Regions from separate parts of the Homo sapiens genome. Here regions 1 and 3 are each linked to region 2. Evidence: fine-mapped expression QTL. A gene starts in region 2. Each other region holds a variant in brackets. All regions are shown on one strand. Distances are from middle to middle.

The links. PIP is the estimated chance that this variant, and not a neighbour inherited with it, causes the effect.
Region 1: its variant is fine-mapped to the expression of SLC39A9 in whole blood (INTERVAL, PIP above 0.99).
Region 3: its variant is fine-mapped to the expression of SLC39A9 in monocytes after R848 (Quach 2016, PIP 0.95).

Annotation. Positions count from the first base shown.
Region 1 is chr14:69,367,566-69,375,747 of GRCh38, forward strand. It overlaps a transcript of GALNT16 not described here. Among named protein-coding and RNA genes, the nearest start is that of ERH, 27 kb to the right of the region's middle. The variant C/T (reference allele first, on the strand shown) is at 4,502.
Region 2 is chr14:69,394,379-69,402,560 of GRCh38, forward strand. It overlaps SLC39A9 (solute carrier family 39 member 9), which reads left to right and starts at 4,314. Exons shown (of 7, transcript NM_018375.5): 1 at 4,314-5,087. The coding sequence starts at 4,992. It overlaps ERH (ERH mRNA splicing and mitosis factor), which reads right to left and starts at 3,921. Exons shown (of 4, transcript NM_004450.3): 1 at 3,853-3,921; 2 at 447-534. The coding sequence starts at 3,855. RefSeq lists enhancers at 2,921-3,429, 3,430-3,937, 4,139-5,338, 4,267-4,606 and a silencer at 3,930-4,170.
Region 3 is chr14:69,471,279-69,479,460 of GRCh38, forward strand. It overlaps a transcript of PLEKHD1 not described here. Among named protein-coding and RNA genes, the nearest start is that of PLEKHD1, 9.4 kb to the right of the region's middle. The variant G/A (reference allele first, on the strand shown) is at 4,351.

The DNA.
Region 1 (8,182 bases), 27 kb before region 2:
TGGTACTTCGTTGTAACAGCATGAACAAACTAAGAGTGATAGAGAGCTTCAAGAATTCCAAGCAGGGGCTGTGCAAGGCAAAAAAAAAAAAAAAGAAAAAGAAAAAAGAAAAAGAATTCCATACAGGAAGGCCAGGCATGGCAGCTCACACTTATAATCCTAGCGCTTTGGGAAGTGGAGATGGGGCAGGGTGGGGGGGAACTGCTTGAGGCCAGGAGCTTCAGACCAATTTGGGCAACATAGGGAGACCCTGTTTCTACCAAATAAAAAATTAAATATTAGCCAGGCATGGTGCTGCACAGCTTTAGTCCTAGCTACTTGGGAGGCTGAGGTGCGAGGATCGCTTGAGCCCAGGAGTTCAAGGCTACAGTGACATGATTGTGCCACTGCACTCCATCCTGGGCAACAGAACGGGATCCAATCTCTAAATAAAGAAAAAAAGAAGAAAAAGAAAAGAGAAAGAATGGCAAGAAAGTGATATAATCAGATTTTCATTATGAAAAACGTCCTCTTCCATAGCACAGAAGAGGACAGACTATTAGAGGGTAGTGATGGATGTCTATTCTTTATCAGCCAAAACCTCCTGCCTCCTTTTTCTGGGAAAAGCTCTTTCCCTTGTGGGTTGAATAGAAACTTCCATTTTATTATAGACTCTATTAGCTACCTATTGCCGTGTAAAAAATTACCCCACAATTTAGTGGCTGGAAACAATTAACATTTATTATCTCACAGTTTCCATGGGTCAGGAATCCAGGAGTGGCTTAGCTGAGGGTTCTGGCTCAGAGACTCTCATGAGGTTGCAATCAGTGTGTCAAGCCAGGGCTGCAGTCATCTCAAGGCTCAAGCAGGGCTAGAGAATCTGCTTCCAAGCTCACTTCCATGGGCTGTCTCCATAGGGCTGTCTCACAACATGGCAGCTGGCTACCCTTGGAACCAACAGTCTCAGAGAGACTGAGAGAGCACACCTAAGATGGAAGCCACAGTCCTTCTGTAACTTCATACTGGTAGTGAGATCTCATTACTTCTGCTGTATGCTATTTTAGGAGAGTCATTCATAAGTTCAGCCTTCCCCTAAGAGGAGGGTTTACACGAGGGCTTGACTACCAGGAGGCAGGAATCACTGGGGGCCACCTCAGAGGCTGCCCACCACACAGATCCCACCATGTCCTCAGGGCAGGTAACCCAAGCTGGGCCAGTCCAGTCAGAACATTTCTTGGGATCTTTTAACTCGACTAGAAAGAAGGAATCTTTCTAAAGTGGTAAAACTCGAAGACAATGGGCATCCCTGTGGGAAAGAGCTGGCCTGTGATGGGAATGACACTAACACTTCAAGGGAAGCAGGGACCAGAAATAGCAGGCATTCCTGTTGCCCATCAGCTTCTGGTTCCACTTGATCCTAAGACTCACCTGTGCTCTGGCCATTCCTGTAATTTGTTTACACAACTCAATAAACTATACCCCTCACTCTTGTTGCCTGAGCTAAGTCAGGATGGGTTTCTGTCATTTGTAACGAGAGAATGATGACTGACTAACTGATCGAGAGTCACCCTGAGGTAGGAAGATCAATTAGGAAACTATTGCAGATGATAACTGATGAGGGCCTGATGAAGGCACTGGGGTTCTGATTAGGGCCCAAACAGGAGGACACATAGGAATGGAAGGAGGGATCATGGCAGACGGTCTTATTCCATTATATCCCCAGATGTTAACATTGTGTCTGGCACATAGTAAGTGCTAAGTAAATATTTGTGGAAATGAATAATTAAATAAATGAATAGAGGCAGAGAGACAAAGATAAAAGCAAGACTTGCTGACCAACTGGATGTGGAAAGTGAGGAAGAAAGAAATGAAAGCTTGTACCCAGACCTCAGCCGTGAAAGGTTGGCTGGCTAGCAACACCATTCAAGACAGAGCTGCTTTGGATGGGGTCCATGAGGAGGGGTGGTGAGCTCCACTGTGAACCACTGGCATGTGTCTTCAAGGCAAGCGGCTGATCTTAGGGAACGGAGTGGTTAACTTTTCTTCAATAGGAACATCCATGTTGTTGGCCTCCCCAGCTCTGTCCACGTTACCTACAGAGTGACGCAACCACGTGCACTCAAAACTAGAGAAAGACCTACTTTTACAAGTAGGCAATGAACACAACCACCTCAGGGACTAGTGGCTCCTGATTAGGAACAGTCTAAAGTTAGCATGACAAAATCAGCTGTCAACTGTCAGCTTAATGAGTCTTCCGACTCCCTGAAGGAGCTCTCTAAGGTCCCCCTGAGGACAGCTTACTTCCCAACCAGACTGGGGAAGATTGTAGAGATGAGTGGAGAGGCCTGAAATTGGGAATTCAGAAAACACATTTGCTCTTCTCCTTTGGGGATGCCCACACTGAGTGAGGCTGGGCACATTTGGCAGCTTTTTATAAACTGGCATTGGAAAGCTGTCAGAGGTGGGAAATGCCCCCTTTTCTATTGGCATTCTTGTGTCCAGTCAGAAGCAGTCTAGGGAGGTGGTTAAGCAAGGGTTGTTAAATGTCACCAGAATTTAGTTTGAAGTGCTGACTCTGTTTACATCCCTGGGCGAGCTCATTAGCATGTGTCAGAAATGCAGCTTCAGTGGCCCCAAACATTCCCCACTGCTCCCAGGCTTACAGAACACCAGCCTGACATAGCAGAGCTACCTCGGGCTTCCTTGCAAGCTCCGCCTGCCAAGCAACCAGACAAGTCGTCCTCAACAAAGGCTTCTTTTGTGGCCCAAATATGCCCTGCTTTGATAATGCATCATTCCCTCTTCTGCTCAGGCTGAGGGGAGAGGGTGGGGCAGCGTATCCAGGTGGAGTGGAGCAGTGAATGTGGTCTGTGAATGGTAAAGCCCTATGGAGGAGTAAGGATCATGGATGCATTGTCAGTCTTAGAAGTGTTCCTACTGGCTTTAGCACTACCGCTATGCAGTAGCCAAGATAGGATATAACTTTGTGATCGAATCTTTTATTTTTTTTTAACTTTTCATTATGGAAAGTTTCAAGCATATGAAAAAGAAGAGGTGAAACCCACCACCCAGGTTATCAATTTATGGCTAATCTTGTTTCATCTACACCCTTCCACTGGATTATTTGAAGCACATCTCATATATGTCATTTTATCTGTAAATATTTCAGTATACACTCTAAAAGAGAATTTGAAAAAATAACCACAATGGCATTATCAAATCTAAAAATCACAATAATTCCTTAATACTGCTGGAATCTTATACTGATGGGCAAAGGAGCCTCCTGGTGCTATCTTCTCCTTTGCCCTCCATCTCCAACAGGAACAGTGCGCCAAGTGCAAATCAATGCAAAAGGCAAGATCCCACCTATGCTAGGGTCATTACTGCTTTGTGAGCAGCTTTAGCAATTTAAAAATATTTCTTGAAATAGCTTGATACAATTTTAAAAACCAAATAAACAGTCCTTATGTTTTTATCAGATCTTTTGGCCCTTACCAAAGGGCCAAGGACAGCCTATTAGAGAATCAAAGTGCTACAAGGATAGCCTATTAGAGAATCAAGAAGTGCCGGAAGTTGAACAAGATTCCTTGCCTGAGCAGCTGGTGACTGGACTGCCCTGGGGTCCTTGGCCTCCACTAAGATACAGGGGTAACTTCACGGTAACATGAATGTTTTTAGACTTCTTTCTGGTAGTATTGTATTAATAGTAATTTTTTTATTTTTTTTTGAGATGGAGTCTCACTCTGTCGCCAGGCTGGAAGTGCAGTGGTGCGATCTCAGCTCACTGCAACCTCCCACTCCCTGGTTCAAGCGATTCTCCTGCCTCAGCTTCCCGAGTAGCTGGGATTACAGGCACGCACCACCACGCCCAGCTTATTTTTGTATTTTTTTTTAGTAGAGACAGGGTTTCACCATGTCAGCCAGGATGGTCTCGGTCTCCTGACCTCGTGATCCACCCGCCTTGGCCTCCCAAAGTGCTGGGATTACAGGCGTTAGCCACCACACCCGGCCTAACAGCAATATTAAATATTGCTGGGGAATACATTTGATTAAGTATAACGTACATATAGAAAGTGTGCAAAACTCTTAAGAGTTTGTTTTGTAATAATAGTTATCATTGGCCAGGCGTGGTGGCTCACGCCTGTAATCCCAGAACTTTGGGAGGCTGAGGTGGGTGGATCATGAGGTCAGGAGTTGGAGACCAGCCTGGCCAATATGGTGAAACCCCATCTCTACTAAAAATACAAAAATTAACCGGGCGTGGTGGCGTGAGCTTGTAATCCCAGCTACTTGGGAGGCTGAGGCAGAAGAATTGCTTGAAGCCGGGAGGTGGAGGTTGCAGTGAGCCGAGATCGTGCCACTGCACTCCAGCCTGGGCGACAGAGCAAGACTGTCTCAAAAAAAATAAAAAAATAAATAATAAATAATAATAAGTTATCATTCACCTGGCTCTACACTTACCCGAGGATTAAGTTAAACAGTGAAAATGAGGTGGAAACAGCATAACTGTTACTAGGACAGC[C/T]GGTCACATAAATGTGGAGTTACCTTTATGGATGAGCAGGATGAGTAGGGCATCCCTGTGCAGGAGTGGCCTGCAGTGAGGAGTTAGAGCCCAAGTAGGAAGAGGAGCTTGTCTAGGCAGAAGGTGGCTGGGGGTTGGAGTGCCTATCAAAGCTGGTGATGGGCAGGGGGAGGTGAGGCGGTTGTCCTTGTTGGGAAGCCTGAGTGATCCATCCACAGGCTCTTGGGGCAACATACTCCGTGTTGGCTGCAAACACTGACTCACTGATACGGGGTCTGTTGACATAGAATCTTATACAAACTGTGGAATCCCAATATCTACACTGGTCTGTTGCAGGAATGCTGGGTAGTATTCAGAGATGCTCACCATTCACACATAGGTCACAAGGCTCAAATACATAATTGTCTTAGTAGTGATCATTAGCCTTTTTTTTTTTTTTTTTTTTTTGAAATGGAGTCTTGCTCTGTTGCCCAGGCTGGAGTGCAGTGATGCGATCTCGGCTCACTGCAACCTCCACCTCCCAGGTTCAAGAGATTCTTCTGCCTCAGCCTCCCGAGTAGCTGGGATTACAGGCGCATGCCACCATGCCTGGGATCTTCAGCCTTTTCTAAGAAGGAAAGAAGTAATTTCTCAATCCAAGTACCTGAAAAGATTCAGAGGGCCTGGCTTAAGAGAAGCAAGGGTATCAAGGATACGTTGAGGTATCAAGCAGGACTTTGATCTCTAATCAACTTCATTCTAATAAGCATTTGTCCTCAACAGCCTTTCAGTACCTGCACCTTCAAATCTTTTCCTAACACTCTGCAAGAAACATGAGGTTTCCTGCCCTCTGTCATTATACCTGCAACCTCCCATTGGGATTTGCAAAATAATTGGGATGAGCATTGTGGTAATCCTTCCTGGAGTTGCATTGTAGGTGGAAGTTGGTGACCATACTTCTAACAGGTCTCTGAGCTCACTGACAGTGTCAAGGACAAAGTGATCTCTAGAATGGCCAGGGGCATTGCAGGGCAAGGACCCAGAACTGTGGGATACTCTTCAAACTACTCACCATGGAACAGACACTAAAAGACTCAACTATACTCTTTTTCTCCAAGGCTAGAGAGGCAATATAGTTGGCCAAGCCCAAGGGTCCTGTAACAGAGTAGGTACTCCACAACAAATGCTTGTAGGTAAAGGTGGGAGTTAGTATTACCATGACAACTCCTCCAACCCTGGGCTTCCAAGAAAGAAACCATGATCTATCCCATTTCTCTTAAATTACAGCCCACACACTTTAACTTCAAACATCTATTGACAAGAATGCAGGGCCTGTCTCAGTTAAGCGATGTCATCAGTTCTCATTAGCCTCTTCATAGTCTCTTGAAAAGCATAAAGAAAATTACCTCTGGCACAGAAAAGGCTTTTAAACCAACCTTTTCACAGTATGTCTCAAACTGAACATCCACTTAAGTGTATAATTACAAAAAAGAAAGGGTATGCTAGATATGTTGACACAGGATCTCTAAATGTAGCTGAAGGAGTTACTATTATCTTCAAAGGCAAAACATCTTTCTTAGGCTTACAAGACAAACTATGTAGTGGAGTAGACAGGAAAGCAAATCACTAAGAGATTATCTCCCTCTAAGTCTTCTTTCTCTTTTTCTTTTCTTTTTTCTTTCTCTTCTTTTTCTTTCTCTTTGTTCTTTTCTTTCTCTCTCTCTTTCTCTCTTTCCTTTTTCTTTTTTGACACAGGGTCTCAATCTGTTGCCCAGGCTGGAGTGCAGTGGCACAATCTCGGCTTGGCTCACTGCAGCTGTGACCTCCTGGGCTTAAGCAATCCTCCCACCTCAGCCTCCTGCATAGCTGGGACTACAGGTATATGCCACCACACCCAGCTAATTTTTGCATTTTTTGTAGAGATGAGGTTTTGCCACGTTGCCCAGGCTGGTCTCAAATTCCTGAGCTCAAGTGATCTGCCCGCCTCAGCCTCCCAATGTGCTGGGATTACAGGCGTGAGCCACTGTGCCTGGCCCTCCTCTAAGGTATCACTGAAATTCCCCTCAGACCATCATCTAGCTTCTTTCAACTTCTCCATCTTTCAAGTGCCCTCATGATTTCAGCCTCTCAGCCCCTCCTATCTCCTAGCCCATCATTCACTTGCCTTAATGTCTAGCCTAGAGTGTGAGTAGTCTTTCAGTGTTATGCTTGTTACTTACTTATGATTCCTTGTCCACTTAACACTCCCCCAGCACTCCCTCCCATAAAAATGTTATACTGCTTCATGTACTAAAGTTTATGCTCTTCTCTATCCCTACTGCCTAAGATCATTCTTGTTCATCTTTGTTGCCATTTATGTGCCTTGTTCTGTTTAGTCAGATTCTATCACTATTTACTGTTCACCTACTATATACCAGGCATTTTCCTATGCTACCTCATGAAAAGCAGTATGTGTAGGATGTCTTGCTAGTCAAAGTGTGGTTACCTGGAAGTTTGTTAAAATTGTAGACTGTGAGTCCACCACAGACCAACCAAATAAAAATCTGCTCAAGATACTCAGGTGTGCAACATTTTGAACAGTAGTGGTATATTGCACATTGGAATATCCCGAGGTTTTTAATTCATGTATTTTGAAGTTCTGTCACTGAGTGATGTGTTAGTCTATTTTCTGTTGCTGTAACAAAATACTTACTGGGTAATTTATAAACAATAGGAACTTATTTGGCTCACAGTTCTGGAGCCTGGAAGTCCAAGAGCATGGCACTGGCACCTTGCAAGGGCCTTCATGTCATCCCATGGTGGAAGGCAGAAAGCAAGAAAGAGAGCAAGAAAGAGAGCAGGGGGACTGAACTCACTTTTATGACAAGACCACTCATGATAACTAACTCACTCCTGCGGAAATGACATTAATTTATTCATAAGGCTCATACCCTCATGACCCAATCAACTCTTATTAGGCCTTACTTCCAACACTGTTGAATTTGGGATTAAGTTTCCAACACATAAACTTTGGGAGACACATGCAAACGACAGCAGGTGCACGTATTTTTAGGATTGTTATGTCTCTTGATGAAGCTACACTTTTATCATTACAAAGCATCCCCCTTCATCCCTGGTAATATTCCTTGTTATGAAGTCTCCTTGCCTTATATTAAGTATGGCCACTCCTGCTTCTAATGCTTAGTGTTTGCATGACATACTTTCCGCATCCTTTTCACTTTTATTGTATCTGTGTCTTAACATGTAAAGTGGATTTCTTATAGACCACATATAGTGGTGTCTTGCTTCATGATCCAGTCTGACAATCCGAGTCTTTTCATTGAAATGTTTAGACCATTTACATTTAATGAAATTATTAATGACTGGGTCTAAATTTACCATATTGCTGTTTGTTATCTATTTTCCCACCTATTCTTTGTTCTGGGGTCCTGGCACACAGTAAAACAAAAGCCTCCACAACAAAAGCCTGTAGATGAAGGTGGGAGTTAACATTACCATGGCAACTCCTCCAACCGCAGGTTTCCACATTATCCTGATATCCTATCTTCTTTTGGATTCTTTTTTTTTAAAGTGATTTCTCTAGGGTTTACAAATAGAGATCTTTATTTTATTGTGAGACAAGTTCTCACTCTGTTACCCATGCTGGAGTGCAATCATAGCTCACTGAAGCCGTGAACTTCTGGGCCTGAGTGATCCTCTTGC
Region 2 (8,182 bases):
GAGGTCAGGAGCTCGAGACCAGCCTGGCCAACATGGTGAAACCCCATCTCTACTAAATACACAAAAAATTATCTGGGTGTGGTGGCCCATGCCTGTAGTCCCAGCTACTTGGGAGGCTGAGGCACAAGAGAATCACTTGAACCTGGGGGGCGGAGGTTGCGTAAGCCGAGATCGCATTACTGCACTCCAGTCTGGGTGATAGAGCGAGACTCTGTCTCAAATAATACATAAATAAACAAACAAATAAATAAAATGTTCAATAATTATGGTCCATCCTAAATATCTGCTTTCCCTCCTAAAATTAGCAATTCAATAAATTTGGAGGGTTGGAAGTGATAAAGGCAGGGCCTGGGGTGGATGGACTATTAAAAAAAAAAAATTTGGAGGGGAAAAACCCAGTTCCTAAATGAGACATTTTTCTACCCCTTGATTAGTGTTAAACTCACCTTCCATGCATTCATTCACAGATTCGTAGTCAGCATAAGTTCTGCCTTCTGGCCTCTTGGTAGGCTGTACCAGCAAAATGGTGTGAGACTGCAGGGGAAAACATGATTTCAATATAAGTTTCTATTTGAGAAATTCATAGTATGATAAAAAAAAATCCCCATTTGTAATGCAATAATGATTGCTAGTTATTAAAATGTAATTAGAGAGGCCAGGCATGGCATCCCATGCCTATAATCCTCATCCTCTGGGAGGCTGAGAGGGGGAAAATCACTTGAGGCCAGAAGCTTGAGACCAACCTGGGCAACATAGCAAGACCCTGTCTCTACAAAAAAATAAAATTTGCCGGGTGCATGCCTGTAGTCCCAGCACTTTGGAAGTCTAAGGCAGGAGGATTCCTTGAGCCCAGGAGGCTGAGACTGCAGTGTGCCATGATCACACCATTGCATCGGAGAGTGAGGCCCTATCTCTTAAAAGAAAAAAAAAAGTCATTAGGATACTTTTCCCACAAAAATATTGATGTCTTAGTCTAAGTATAGTATCTAGCTGGATTCACAACTCTGCTGTACGGTCTCCCTAAGTCTCCCAGTCCTACCGTACTTACTGCCTACAAGTAATCAGTATAAGCTACCTTGCCCTCCTTTTCCTTTTCTATCTTTTCTTCCCAACTAAATTATAAACCTGCTTAGGTTTTCTGTCTCCAGTGGTCACTTTCCATCTTTAATGCTCTTAAGTCACTAATAAAAACTCAGATGGGCTGATGAAAGGAAACAAAAGGGGAAATAGTATAATAATCACAAGCATGGTTTCAACTTAAGCTTTTTTTCCAACCTCAGCGTAAGAGCAAAGTCACATTTTATCCAGGGGTTAGACTTAACATTAAAGCAGTAGATAAATTAGCAATATAAACATATCATAAGAATTACCCTTAAAAATCCATTAAACTATTCACCTAGTAGATGACTTGCCTTACTGGGCTTTCTCATACCAAAATCACATATTAGAATCACACAGAAAGTTAGGTCATCACACTATGAGAAATGTGAAATAATGCCCATAGCAGACAGACTTGTCTTCCACTTCGTGCTCACTGGGAAACATGTTTTTGTTAGTGATCAGTCACTAACAAATCAATCTCAGTGTTTTCTCAACGTGGGCTCTATTACCTTTTGGGTTGACTGATTCTTTGTTACAAATGTCCCTTGGGGAGCAAAAAATCTCATCCAGCTGAGAATTCACTGGTCTGTTGAAAATATGACCCATCCAATTTTCTGCTACATGTGTAAGGTTAATTAAATGCAAGTATGATGCAACTCCACTGTAAATCCAGTCCCAAATCAAACTATTCACCTTTTTCCTTCTCTTCTGCTGTACTAGTATTTTTCAGCCAAAAACCAGAAAACAAAAATTTCCTAACAGGAACCCTAAACTGTTTTGGAATAACATAATTTTTTTTTGGAGACAGTTTTGTTCCTGTTGCCCAGGCTGGAGCGCAAAGGCGCGATCTCAGCTCACCGCAACCTCTGCTTTCCGGGTTCAAGCGAATCTTCTGCTTCAGCCTCCCAAGTAGCTGGGATTACAGGCATGCACCACCATGCTCGGCTAATTTTGTCTTTTTAGTAGAGATGGGGTTTCTCCATGTTGGTCAGACTGGTCTTGAACTCCCGACCTCAGGTGATCTGCCTGCCTCGGCCTCCCAAAGTGCTGGGATTACAGGCGTGAGCCACCGCGCCTGGACAAAATGATCAGAATTTTTAACCATCAAATTGGAACAGAAATAGCTGAAGCCCAGACTTTCTGAATAAACAATGGAAAAATAGTACATTTAACATGACATGCAAAACCAAGGGTTATCATACCCTTCTCTCCCCATCAAGAACTAAACCACTTTGACTAAAAGTTTCAGAGGGTTTGACATAAAAACGGAACTTGGTGACAAGAGACGAAGGATTAACTCTCACCTGTAATAACCTGAGCAGTCAAAGCCTTTGTTAAATCGATTTAAAAGCCACAGAAAGCATCATATTAGATTATTTGTTATACAGAAGTCTTTGTAAGCTAGCTACTCAAAAAGTTTCAACGAGTCATTTAAGAAAAAATAATTTTGTAGAAACCACGTGCATTCTTGCAACAGAGGTTGCCCTATACACTAGCTATCTCAACTGCTACTATAATAATTGTATTCCAATTCTAATGCAAATTAAAGGACTAATTTGAAAGGGTAAGAATGGAAAAAGCTATACAGCATGTTGCTTTTTATATCTAGTCTTAAAATGAACACCGGGCAAAGTTTACTATTTTCAGTACTTACTGCCCAAAGACAAGGATTAAAAATCACTAAGAACATAACATGATACATTTTAAAAACTGTGGTCAAGTGGTTATCATTTTTAAATGGCAATGCTTTCCTGCTCAAATTCTTTACAGATTATACCACCTCTCAAGCCAGTTTTGGTCACTTTCTTCGAATTGGAGCTTACTGATCATCCCGGTTGGGTTCTAATAGAGCTGGTCTCTGAGCTGAGCCTACTTTTCAGCCTCCAGCCCCAAGAGGATATAAATACAGATAAGTACAGGATCGAGGGCTGAGGGACGCGCCACACGCAATACCTAGAGGTCTCAAAAACAGGAAAAAAAAAAAAAAGGCAGAGCACAGGAAAACGAAAGCTGAAAAAACACTGCAAAGCAAATACGTCCTCTCCTGGCCCACATGCTGGGTATAGCTGGATCTGTCAGCTTCGAGAATAGTTAGACAACCCTGGCCCATTGTTCCTACAGCAGGCTAGAGCATTTGGAGGGAAAAATACCATATCCGGCAGGGCCCGGTGGCTCACGCCTGTAATCCCAGCACTTTGGGATGCCGAGGCGGGTGGATTGCTTGAGGTCAGGAGTTCGAGACCAGCCTGGCCAACATGGTGAAACGCCGTCTCTGCTAAAATAAAAAAATTAGCCGAGCGAGGTGGCGGGCGCCTGTAATCCCAGCTACTAGGGAGGCTGAGACAGGAGAATTGCTTCAACCCAGGAGGCAGAGGTTGCAGGGGTCTGAGATCCCGCCACTGCACTCCAGCCTGGGCGATAGAGTGAGACTCTCTATCTCAAAAAACAAAACACCTCCCCCACGTCTCCCTCTACCGAGTAACAATCGGGAGAGAGTTCATCCTCAGGCCCAAGGCACGCCGGACCCGAGCGAGCAGGCGGGCGCGCAACCGCAGGGCGGACCGGGGCTCCGAGGCCTAGAGTCAGGCCTGGCGTCCCTGCGGCGGGAAGAAGGGTCAATCCACCGACTAGAGTGGCGGGGAGCATCACGCGGCGCTGCATGGGGCTCGTGGGGAGGGGAAAACGTATGGGGCTGGGGTCGCTCTGGAGGCCGGGGACTCGGACTCGGGTAGCCGCGGAGGCCTTTCTCACCATCGCGCCAAACTCTCTTCGCTACAGCAGCTGCCGACACCGCCGCCGTTACACGAGCTTAACTACAACGCCGCTAACAGCCAATCCTCGCGAGAGGAGCCGCCGGAAGTCGTCGAAAGTGCAACGCAAAAGAGCCTTTTGGATCATAGAGGCACAGTCACTTCCGGCAGCTAGAGCAGCTACTGACTCTGTTTCAGCCATCTTCGATAAAGGCAAAAAGGTAAGGGAAAGTTTCCAAGCTTTAGGAAGAATTATTTTTTTTCAAGACGCTGTCTTCCGTACTTTCGTTATTAAACATACGGCTCAAGTGATCACCGGTATAGACAGTGACATCAGACATCTTTCATTAGCCCTACTCAAAAATGGCGGCAACGTAAGTATCCTGGGCCGGAGGTCGGTTGTAACCCGGAAGTGCCTTTGTAAAGGAGGGGGTGGTTAGACAATCCGGAAGTGGATGGAATGAAGAGATGCCACTTGGCGGCCATGGCAGCTGTAGTATCGGCGACTCCGGGTCAAGGCCCGGTCGAGTGCAGTACCATGGGCAGCACCGGGTATAGGGCAGAGACAGCTTTGTGTCAACTTTGCTGCTGAACCCCTAGGACCCATCGTTAGAGACCTGCAGGACTCCTTTCCTCATCCCAGGCTCGGAGGAGAGTTTGCTGGGACTGGTGGGCTGGTTTCCTGCTCTGGGGGGCGGATCACCTTCGGGGCCGCCTCTTGGAGACAGGGGCGCCTAGGGAACGAACAGGTTCGCTTGAGTCACTTACCCGCCGCCGCCTAAGACATTGTGCCACCCTCAATCCGACAATCGAAGAAATCGATCATTCGCACATTTTCCCCATTGACTTTTCCCATCTCTGTTAACCCACGAGAATCTAATGACTGGCATCTGAGAACCCAGAGCCTGGGACCTTAGATTGCTGTAAGCTTTCTCTGGTGCTAATATCAGCAAAAAGGGTCTGTTGCCGGGTACGTTCAAGAGGAAGGTGCCTCGTGAACACATCTGCTGGTGGGAAGGCCTAAAGAACTGGAAAGCCCACTCTCTTGGAACCACCACACCTGTTTAAAGAACCTAAGCACCATTTAAAGCCACTGGAAATTTGTTGTCTAGTGGTTGTGGGTGAATAAAGGAGGGCAGAATGGATGATTTCATCTCCATTAGCCTGCTGTCTCTGGCTATGTTGGTGGGATGTTACGTGGCCGGAATCATTCCCTTGGCTGTTAATTTCTCAGAGGTAAGAAATTCTCAATTTTCTGTCAGCTGTCAGGATGGCTGTGAGATAGTAGTTTTAGTTGCAAAGGGAAGCTGCTTCCCTAGTTAAATCTCAAAGCTGAAGGTCTCATTAAGAAAGACTATCTTTTTTAAAAGATACATGACACTTAATAATAGAAAGAAACCTCATATTCATTAGTGGAATTCTTAACCTGGGGTGGATAGATATTCCACGGAAGATCCTGGAGTATTCTGAATCCCCTAGAATTGCTTACAAAAATTTGAGGTTCTGTGCATTTACCTGGAGAGAGGCACCATAACATTTCTTTTGATTCTCAGAGGTTTCATGGAATCAAGATTCCAGATTGTTATCAAGAAAATAAATGGAGGGCTGGGCGCGGTGGCTCACGCCTGTAATCTCAGCACTTTGGGAGGCTGAGGTGGAAGGATCGCTTGGGCCCAGGAGTTCTAGACCAGCCTGGGCAACGTGGCGGGACTTTGTCCCTACAAATGAGGCTGAGGCAGGAGGATCGCTTGACCCCAAGTGGTTGAGGCTGCAGTGAGCCGTGTTTGGGCCACTGCACTCCAGCCTGGACAGCAGAGTGAGATCCTGTCTCCAAAAAAGAAAAAAAAAGAAATGGAGAATGTTATTTTTCTACATGAACTGAAATCAATATGATAACTTCCTTTTGAGAAAGTCAAACACACCTTTCTGAGGAAAGCTGTTTTGTTTTTTGGATGTCTGTACTAGAATGAATGTAAGAAAAAACTAAGATTGTTCTTAACTCACATTTCCTTTTAAAGAAGGGGAGCCTTGGAATTGATATTCTGAAGTTGTTTCAAATCTATTTGCTTAGCAATGAATTTTTGGTTAATACGTTTTGACATTTTCGTTAATTTGATTGGCACCTTGAACAGATGTTAAGCGAGGGTCCCGGGAAGAGGGATAGATGAAAGCACTGTTCAGTGAACATGCTGATAGGTCCTTTAGGTAGGCAAAAGGAATTCACGAAGTGCACAGCGTTCAAAGATTTAGGGGGGAAAAACTACTACATTCAAAGGGAACAAGATTTCATGAGTTTGTCCTAGAGTTCAGCAGTAAAATAGGCCCTAGTTTCAGTGCCATTCCTGAAAGTACTTTCAAAGGAGGCCTGAAGTAGAAAGGAAAGGTATAAATGAAATATTAAGTACACCTTGAAGAAACCTGAGGAAGAGGAGACATTACAGGTGAAAATAGCCTGTGGGTGGGAAAGAAGGTGGGACAAGGTGTTGTCAGTTTGAGGAAAAGTAAAGCCCATAGCCAGATGGAACAGATGCTTAAATTGTTGTTGTTCTTTTTCTGTTTCCTTTTTAATCTGTACCCCTCAGCATCTAATGATAGCATTTTAAAAAATTACGTGCATTACCTAACTTCACTTAAAAAACTCAAGCTGGGTGCGGTGGGGCGCGCCTGTAGTCCTAGCTACTCAAGAGGATAAGGTAGGAGGATTGCTTGAACCCAGGAGTTGGCCTGGGCAACATTGAGACTCTTTCTCTTAAAAAAAAAAAAAAAGAAAATAAAAATCAGTGACATATAGATGAGGAAACGGAGACTGGATAGGTTCATGAAGTTTGTTAGAATCAGAAGAGAGGTATTTTTTCAGTCTAGCTTTTCTGACTCAGACTAGTTCGTAGCCACTAAGCATTTCGGCAAAGGTACATGGTACATATACATGGTAGCCTGTGTGCCAAATCCAGCCTGCAGACTGTTCCATTAGCAGAAGTTTATTATTGTTGTTCTTTACCAGTATTTCCTAGAGGCAAAGGTTGGGTCGGGCTGAGTAGCAGCTGTTAGGCACAGTCCTCCTTGCCCTTGAAGCCTGTTTCACTTATTTGGGTTACCTGCCTGCCCAGTACTTTGTGAACCTGCTATGTTTCCTTTGACATAACCATATTTTCTTATAACTATATTAGAATTGAATTGACATTAGTAGGGCTGACATGTGTGAGATTTGGGTTGGTTTGTGTATTTTTAAACATATTGAAGTAACATTTATGAATAATCATAATTAATTCTGATAAGCAACCAGTAAAACTTTTTATTTCTATAAAATGCCTTTAACTTTACCAATTCCAGTATTTTTTCAAACTACCTTGAATGATTATTGCAATATGCGGATATATACTATTTCCTTTTTCACTAGAAGGAAATGTTTACAGGAGTGGTGTTAATAACTGGGTCATTAATACAGATAATTAGTATGTCATGTCATTTGTGGCTTTCTTAAATTGACGGTCAGATGGTCTTTTCCAGCTGTAGGTCTTAAAATGCTAAAATCAGCATTCATAATATCTGTTTATTATTAGAGTAGATGCAATGCATTTTGAGCTATTAGAATAAAAAATGAAAGTTATATATAACTTAAAGACATCCTAGAATTCAACTAGGATTTCTATCTCCTAGGAACTAAACATATTTTCTAGGTAAATTATGCCATTATTATGGACCAATGTTGTAATGAAACTAGTGAGATGGTAAATTTGTAAAAATAAATTTCATTCACGGGGGACTGGAAAGCACCATTTCTTTCCTTAGAAAATAATTCCCCAAACTCCTACACTGGATAAATGACTTGCCTTTTTAAGGAAGTCTGGCTTTCTTAGAGGCTAGTGTTACTGTTTTACAGTTCACTTTCGTTTACATCAGGGGTGTCCAATCTTTTGGCTTCCCTGGGCCACATCAGAAGAAGAATTATCTCAAGCCACACATAAAATACACTAACACTAAGATAGGTGATGAGCTAAAAAAAAAAAATGCAAAAAAAAACTCATAATGTTTTAAGAAAGTTTATGAATTTGTGTAAGGCTTCATTCAAAGTGCTCCTGGGTTGCATGCGGCCCACGAGCCATGAGTTGGACAAGCTTGATTTACATGAAAAGATATGCTTTTTATTCATGTTTTTAATCTTGCTGCTGCTTTCTCATTCAATACTTTTTCTAAAAATATCTCAGAACAGGAATAAAAGTCAGATGATCAATTATGGCAAGATTAGTATTTAAAAACGAGTTAAAATTAGGTAGTCTGAAATTGCAGTAGTGGTGGGGTCTACCTGCCAGATGTGCCCACCAAGAGGTTTA
Region 3 (8,182 bases), 77 kb after region 2:
AATTTTTATTTTTGTAGAGATGGGGTCTCCCTATGTCGCCTAGGCTGATCTCAAACTCCTGGGCTCAAGGGATCCTCCCGTCTTGACCTCCCAAAGAGCTGGGATTACAGACATGAGCCACCACGCCTGGCTCATCCCCACTTTCAAATGTGGAAACCAAGGCACATCTCTGAAGCTGGAGCTCAGGCATTCTGGCTCCTGAGTCCACACTCTTAACTACACTGTAGAGGTCACAAGGTCTGAGAGAAACTGGATCAAACCAAGAGAGAGTAGCTCTGGAGTCTAGACCTGGTTCAAGGACAAACTGTACTACCTTGAATAGGGATGGTTTTCTCATTCAGGACTGGGCATCGCAGGGGCTGGCCAGCATCCAGGACCTCGGAGTCCCAGTCATTCAGAATCATGCTGCCTCAGGATGTCTCAAGTCCAGGGCTCCCCACACTTTCCCATGCCAAAGGTGCCTAACAGCAGAAGAGAATGAACCACCACCCATGGTAGTCTAGTATTTGGCCGAGAGATGTCAACCTATACACAGGAAGCTCCTTGACATCTCACTTTTGCTGACTTTGTCTTCTCCTTCATAATCCACATTTATTTTTACCATAGATATAATGTTTAAAATTAATTACCAGATAAACTCTTAGGCTTCCAGAGCTTAAGGTTCCTTCCAAACCTTCTGGTGAAACGGCTGCTTCACGGAAATGGTGAGAAAATGTTTCACACGTTTTTACACAGTCACACACAAGTGTGTATCTACTTCTCAATGGTCCCAGCCACACACTCAACGACCCGTGCTGAGTCAGAACCAAACACCACACACCGTCACAACAATCACCACACACAGCGATGGTCACATGCCCACTCGGTCACTCACCCACAACCAGAGAGAGAATCACACACAGGCGGCACACCCAACACCACAGCCCTTCAAGCAGCAACCCAGGGAATCAAACACTCACCTGCCTACACATGTATGTATGTCTGTTTTTAATTCTTCTAAGCTAGAGCTGCATCCTCCCGTATACTGTTTATAATGTAAGAAGTAAGCAACCTTGAGTCTTTGTCCTTGTGTCTGGAATGCTCTTCCCCCTCCTTCAACTCTGGATGCAATGTCTCCTTCCATTAGGCTTACCGGGACCGCGTGAGTTAAAACTGTAACCTGTCCCCACCCCCATGTTCTGTATGCTGCTCTATTTCTTTTTCGGTAACGTTAATCACCGTGTCATGTGCTTTATAAAGCAGCCATGCAACACAGAGCAATGTTTCGGTCAATGATGGACCACATTTATAACCATGGTCCTCTAAGATTATAATACTGTATTTTTACTCCACCTTTTTCTGTGGTTAGACACACAAATACTTACCATTGCATTGCAACTGGCTACAGTGTTCAGTACAGTAATGTGCTGCACAGGTTTGTAGCCTAGGAGCAATAGGCTGTACCATACAGCCTAGGTGTGTGGTAGGCTATGCCATCTAGGTTTGTGTAAGTGCACTCTATGGCAGGGGTCCCCAACCCCGGGCCACAGACCAGTACTGGTCCTTGGCCTATTAGGAACCGGGCCACACAGCAGGAGGTGAGCGGCAGGTGAAGAAGCATTACCACCTGAGTTCTGCCTCCAGTCAGATCAGCGGCAGCATTCGATTCTCATAGGAGCATGAACCCTACTGTGAACTGCACACACAGGGATCTAGGTTGCATGCTCCTTATGAGAATCTAATGCCTGATGATCCATCACCGTCTCCCATCATCCCCAGATGGGACCGTTTAGTTGCAGGAAAACAAGTTCAGGGCTCCCACTGATTCTACATTATGGTGAGTTGTATAATTATTTCATTATATATTACAATGTAATAATAGAAATAAAGTGCACCATAAATGTATTGCACTTAAATCATCCTGAAACCATCTCCCCCCAAACTCCAGCGCATGAAAAAATTGTCTTGCATGAAACTGGTTCCTGGTGCCAAAAAAGTTGGGGACCACTGCTCTACAGTGTCCAAACAAGGACAAAATTGCCTAAGGACATGTTTCTCAGAATGTGTCCCTACCCCACCCTCCCACCAACCCTCCCTCTCCCCGCCCCAGCTGCAGCCCTGATCCCTGGCAGGACCAGCTGCTGACCCTGCGTGTGTGTAGCTCCACCTCTGCCTCACTTGGTGAGGGCTGCTTGGGAGTTAGCAGTATCAGAAAGGGCATGGAACTGAGTGTACAGGTGGGAAATTAACTGGGTTCAGGTTACTAACTCAGTGCTGACCAGCCACAGCAAGGTGCTGTATGACTAATTTAGGAATCAGAAAACCCGGATCCTATTACTGGCTCAGCCACTGATTTTTGTTACCATGTTAGCCACTGCCCAATTTTGTAATTTTTGGACAGGAATGTGAGTAAAAGTTTGTGTCCCACTCTGGTTGCACAAGAATTGAGGAATCCCGACAAATTCAGGAGCCATCAGAGGAGGGAGCCCAGTGGAGAAGGGGATCGAGGGGGAGATTGGGGTCTTCGAGGAAGCTAGAAGGACCTGGATTGCTTGCTTATGTCTGGAATGCTCTTGAGGGCAGAATTTGATAACCATCTTCAGATACTTCAACTACTGTCTCACCAAAGCTTCCACTCCTGAACTCTTGTTTCCTTCCAGCCCTCCAGCCCCCATCTGAATTGGGTGTTTGCTGGGCTAGGGGCAGAGGGTGGGAATGGCAGTAGAACCTATATTGTATTTTCATCTGTCCCTGCCTTCGCCCTGCTCAGTACTTGACAAACTGAGAGGAGCGGGGACTCCTCTTAGGAGCCTGCCAGGCACCCTCCCCACCCACTCATCAAGGAAATAAAGGAAAATCTGAGTTCCTTCAAGGGAAATTCCAGGCACCTAGCTAGCCCTGAGAAGTGGGCGAGCAATTTCATAAGCAAGAAGGCAAAAGCAGCCTAAAACAATAACCAAGGAAGTTAGAGTCTCAGAAAGTTTGGTTCCCTTTAGAAACTAAAGATAATATCTTACCATATTTTCCTGAGTTGCTTTCCAGAAACCCAGACCCCCACCAAATGATCTGCTGGCACATAGACCTCAGATAGGGGGAAATGAGGGCTGAACTCTGACCACCGGTTCGCGACCATGGGCCAGAGCTAACATTCTTTTCTGCTAACTCCGAATTTTTAGACAAAGTTTTGCCTCCTTTACCAAATGCAAATCAGAAAATCTTTGTGAATTCACCTGTGACCTGTGCCCCACCCGCCTTGAGATGTCCACCTTTTTAGGTCAAACCAACGTATAGCCTCCATTGTATTAATTTATGGCTTATGACTTTGCTTGTAACCTCTGCCTTTAGAAAGTCTTGCCTGTAAGCTGTTTGGGAGTTCTGGTCTGAAGTATAAACTGCCAGATTCTCCTTCCTTGGCACCCTGCAATAAATGCCTCACTTTCTCTGACTGCAATCCCCATGGCCGTGTTTGGCTTTGCTCCACCGGGTGTGCGGATGCAAATTCAGTTTAGTAACAAAGCCAGAAAAGAACATGCTATTGAACCTGGAAAAAAAATTCCAAGAAAGTATGATGCAGAGAGTTAGATGTCCTGGTCACCCCCTTCTTTTTTTAAAAAGAGATTGGAGATCTCGTTCTGTCATCCAGGCTGGAGTGTGGTGGTGTAATCACAGCTCAATGTGACCTCGAGTTCCTGGGCTCAGTTGATCCTCCCACCTCAGCCTCCCAACGCTCTGGGATTATAGGTATGAGCCACTGTTCCTGGTTAGCTCCCTTTTGATATATGAAGACAAGAGTGTTTTAAAGTAACTTGACCAAAGTCTTCTCATTGAGTAAAGATGGAGCTAACGCTGGTGACCAGCCTTTGGCTCCTAGTCCAGTGAACTGCTAATTCTGTTCTAGATGAGGGGCCAGCATCTTGGCTTTCCCTTAGATGTTCTGGGAGAGTGTGTGAGATCATAGCAATAAATGGCTATGGGCTTATTGGCCAGACTCAACATATCTGCCTCTTACCATTCCCAAAATATACTTGCTCTTAGAAGCCAAATTAATGTATATTCTAATTCATGCATCACCCACAAGAGGGAGCACTGAATACCTTCAGGGTGTCTGCTGAGTGTGCTGCCCACAGCGATGCCGGTGGGTACCAAGAGCTAATGTTAGTGCGGTAGAGTAGCTGGCAGGCTGACAGGGTGGCATGGTTTTCCAGCCACTCCCAAAAACGCTTCTGCATTGGCAACATTGGGTGTGAGTGATTACTGGGCAGTGAGAGGGTGGGGTGGGGTAGAAGCCTAGCAAGAGGCTGGCCCTGCTGATGAGAACACAGCCCATCTAGTCTAGTGCCAGGGAGCTCAAGTGGAGAGAGACTTTGAAGC[G/A]GGGGCCTGCTTATGTGGCTTCAGGCTGTGCTTCCCCGCAAGTGAGGCTTCCCACAGGGGCCCCGGGGGACCCTACTCCCCAGCGCACCCAGAGATGGGTCAACTAGTCTTCTGTGCCCACACACCCTTGTGGCTCTCCCTCCCCCATAGTCCTTTGGCCTACTGGCTTTGCACCTTCATGTGGTACCTTGTGCCCCACCTCAACTCTCTCCTGGGTTGCCCTGGGGGAAACCCAGTCCTGCGCAGGTAGAGGAGCCCAAGGCCCATCGTGGCCTTAGGAAATACAATCAAAATAGGAATATAATTCAACCAAGGGGAGGAGGAAGTGGCATCAGAAAAGGCATCACTGCCGGGTGGAATGGCTCACGCCTATAATCCCAGCGTTTTGGGGAGCCGAGGCAGGTGGATCACTTGAGGTCAGGAGTTCGAGACCAGCCTGGCCAACATGGCAAAATCCTGTCTCTACTAAAAATACAAAAATTAGCTGCATGTGGTGGTGTGTGCCTGTAATCCCAACTATTCCAGAGGCTGAGGCATGAGAATCCCCTGAACCCAGGAGGTGGAAGTTGCAGTGAGCCGAGATCGAGGCACTGCATTCCAGCCTGGGTGACAGAGTGAGACTCTGTCTCAAAAAAAAAAAAAAAAAAAAATGGCATCACTGCTGGGTGCAATGGATCATGCCTGTAATCCCAGCAACAGGAGGATCTTTCGAGCCCAGTAGTTCAACGCTAGCATGGCCAACATAGCAAGATCCCTAGGCCCTATTTCAAAAAAAAAAAAAAGTTTATTAGTTAGACGTTTTGGCATGTACCTGTAATCCCAGCTACTTGGGAGGCCGAGGAGAGAGGATTGCTTGAGCTCAGGAGTTCCAGGCTCAGTGAACTATGATGGCATCACTGCACTCTAGCCTGAGCAACCCTATCTCTTAAAATAATAATAATAATGTTTTAAAAGAAAACTAAAAGACATCACTAAAGAAGTCTTTGGGCTGAATGTTGAAGAGGGATTTTGGGAATAAGAGAAGCATTGTAGACTGAGGAGACAGCAAGTGAGAAGATGTGAAGAGCATGGGACCTTCCCAGGCTAGCAGAACCAGCGTGGCTGGAGCAGAGGGCCAGGGGAATGACTGTGAGTGAGCGCGGACAGGGGCCAGGGACTAGACTGTGAAGGGTATTTGTATTAGTCTGTTTTCACGCTGCTGATAAAGCCATACCTGAGACTGGGCAATTTACAAAAGAAAGAGGTTTATTGGACTTACAGTTCCATGCGGCTGGGGAAGCCTCACAATCATGGCGGAAGGTGAAAGGCATGTCTCATATGGCAGCAGACAAGAGAAGAGGGCTTGGGCGGGGAAACTCCCCTTTATTTTATTTATTTATTTATTTATTTATTTATTTAGAGACAATGTCTCCCTCTGGTGTCACCCAGGCTGGAGTGCAGTGGCACAGTCTCAGCTCACTGCAACCTCTGCCTCCCAGGTTCAAGCAATTCTCCCGCCTCAGCCTCCTAAGTAGCTAGGATTACAGGCATGTGCCACCACAGCCTGGCTAATTTTTGGATTTTTAGTAGAGATGGGGTTTCACCACATTGGTCAGGCTGGCCCTTTTTAAATCATCAGATCTGATGAGACTTATTCACTATCACGAGAACAGCACAGGAAAGACCCACCCCCATGATTCAACTACCTCCCACTGGCTTGCTCCTGCAACACATGGGAATTCAAGATGAGATTTGGGTGGAGACACAGCCAAACCATATCATTCTGCCCCTGGCCCCTCCCAAATCTCATGTACTCACATTTCAAAACCAAACATGCCTTCCCAACAGTCCCCCAGGTCTTAACTCATTTCCGCATTAACTCAGAAGTCCACAGTCCAAAATCTCATCTGAGACAAGGCAAGTCCCTTCCACTTATGAGCCTGTAAAATCAAAAGCAGGTTAGTTATTTCCTAGATACTATGGGGGTACAAGCATTGGGTAAATACAGCCATTCCAAATGGGAGAAATTGGCCAAAACAAAGTGGCTACAGGCCCCAGGCAAATCTGAAATCCAGCAGGGCAGTCAAATCTTAGAGCTCCAAAACGATCTCCTTTGACTCCATGTCTCGCATCCAGGTCACACTGATGCAAGAGGTAGGTTCCCATAGTCTTAGGCAGCTCCGCCCCTGTGGCTCTGCAGGGTACAGCCCCCCTCCTGGCTGCCTTCACTGGCTGGTGTTGAGTATCTGAAGCTTTTCCTGGTGCATGGTGCAAGCTGTCAGTGGATCTACCATTCTGGGGTCTGACCCTCTTCTCACAGCTCCACTAGGCAATGTCCCAGTAGGGACTCTATGTGGGGGTTCCTGCCCCACATTTCCCTTCTGCACTGCCCTAGCAGAAATTCTCCATGAGAACCCTGCCCCTGCAGCAAACTTCTGCCTGGGCATCCAGGTGTTTCCATACATCTGAAATGTAGGCAGAGGCTCCCAAACCTCAATTCTTGACTTCTCTGCACTTGCAGGCTCAACACCATGTGGAAGTTGCCAAGGCCTGAGGCTTGTGCCCTCTGAAGCCATGGCCCAAGCTCTACGTTGTCCCCTTTCAGCCCTGGCTGGAGTGGCTGGGATGCAGGGCACCAAGTCCCTAGGCTGCACACAGGAGACCCTGGGACCGGCCCATGAAACCACTTTTTCCTCCTAGGCCTCTGGGCTTGTGATGGGAGGGGCTGCTGTGAAGACCTCTGACATGCCCTGGAGACATTTTCCCCATTGTCTTGGGGATTAACATTTGGCTCCTCATTACTTATGCAAATCTCCATAGCTGGCTTGGATTTTCTTTTCTATCACATTATCAGGCTGCAAATTTTCTGAACTTTCATGTTCTGCTTCCTTTACAGAACTGAATGTCTTTAACAGCACCCAAGTCACCTCTTGAATGCTTTGCTACTTAGAGATTTCTTCCACCAGATACCCTAAATCTTCTCTCTCAAGTTCAAAGTTCCACAAATCTCTAGGGCAGGGGCAAAATGCTACCAGTTTCTTTATTAAAATATAACAAGAGTCACCTTTGCTCCAGTTCCCAACAAGTTCCTCATCTCCATCTGAGACCACCTCAGCCTGGACCTTATTGTTCATATCACTATCAGCATTTTTGCCAAAGCCATTCAACAAATTTCTAGGAACTTCCAAACTTTCCCACATTTTCCTGTCTTCTTCTGAGCCCTCCAAACCGTTCCAACCTCTGTCTGTTACCCAGTTCCAAAGTCACTTCCACATTTTTGGGTAACTTTTCAGCAGCACCCTACTCTACTGGTACAAACTTTTGAGTGCGGACAGGGCCAGGGACTAGACTGTGAAGGGTGTTTGTATTAGCCTGGTTTTACGTCGCTGATAAAGACATACCTGAGACTGGGCAATTTACAAAAGAAAGAGGTTTATTGGACTTACAGTTCCATGTGGCTGGGGAGACCTCACAATCATGGTAGAAGGTGAAAGGCATGTCTCACGTGGTGACAGATGAGAGAAGAGAGCTCGTGCAGGGAAACTCCCCTTTTTAAAACCATCAGATCTGGTGAGACTTATTCACTATCATGAGAACAGCACTGGAAAGACCTTCCTCCATGATTCAACTACCTCCCACTAGTACTCTCCCACAACACATGGGAATTCAATATAATATTTGGGTGGGGACACAGCCAAACCGTATCAGTGTTAGAGCCAAAGTCAGGAGGTAGGAGCTGGGGTCAAGGGAATGGGACCCAGCAGAGGGCTTTACACAAGAGACTTACAGGATCAGCTTGGGGCCTTGAAAAGAGCACGCATGATGGTGGGGAGCTGGATTATTTAGGGAGTCA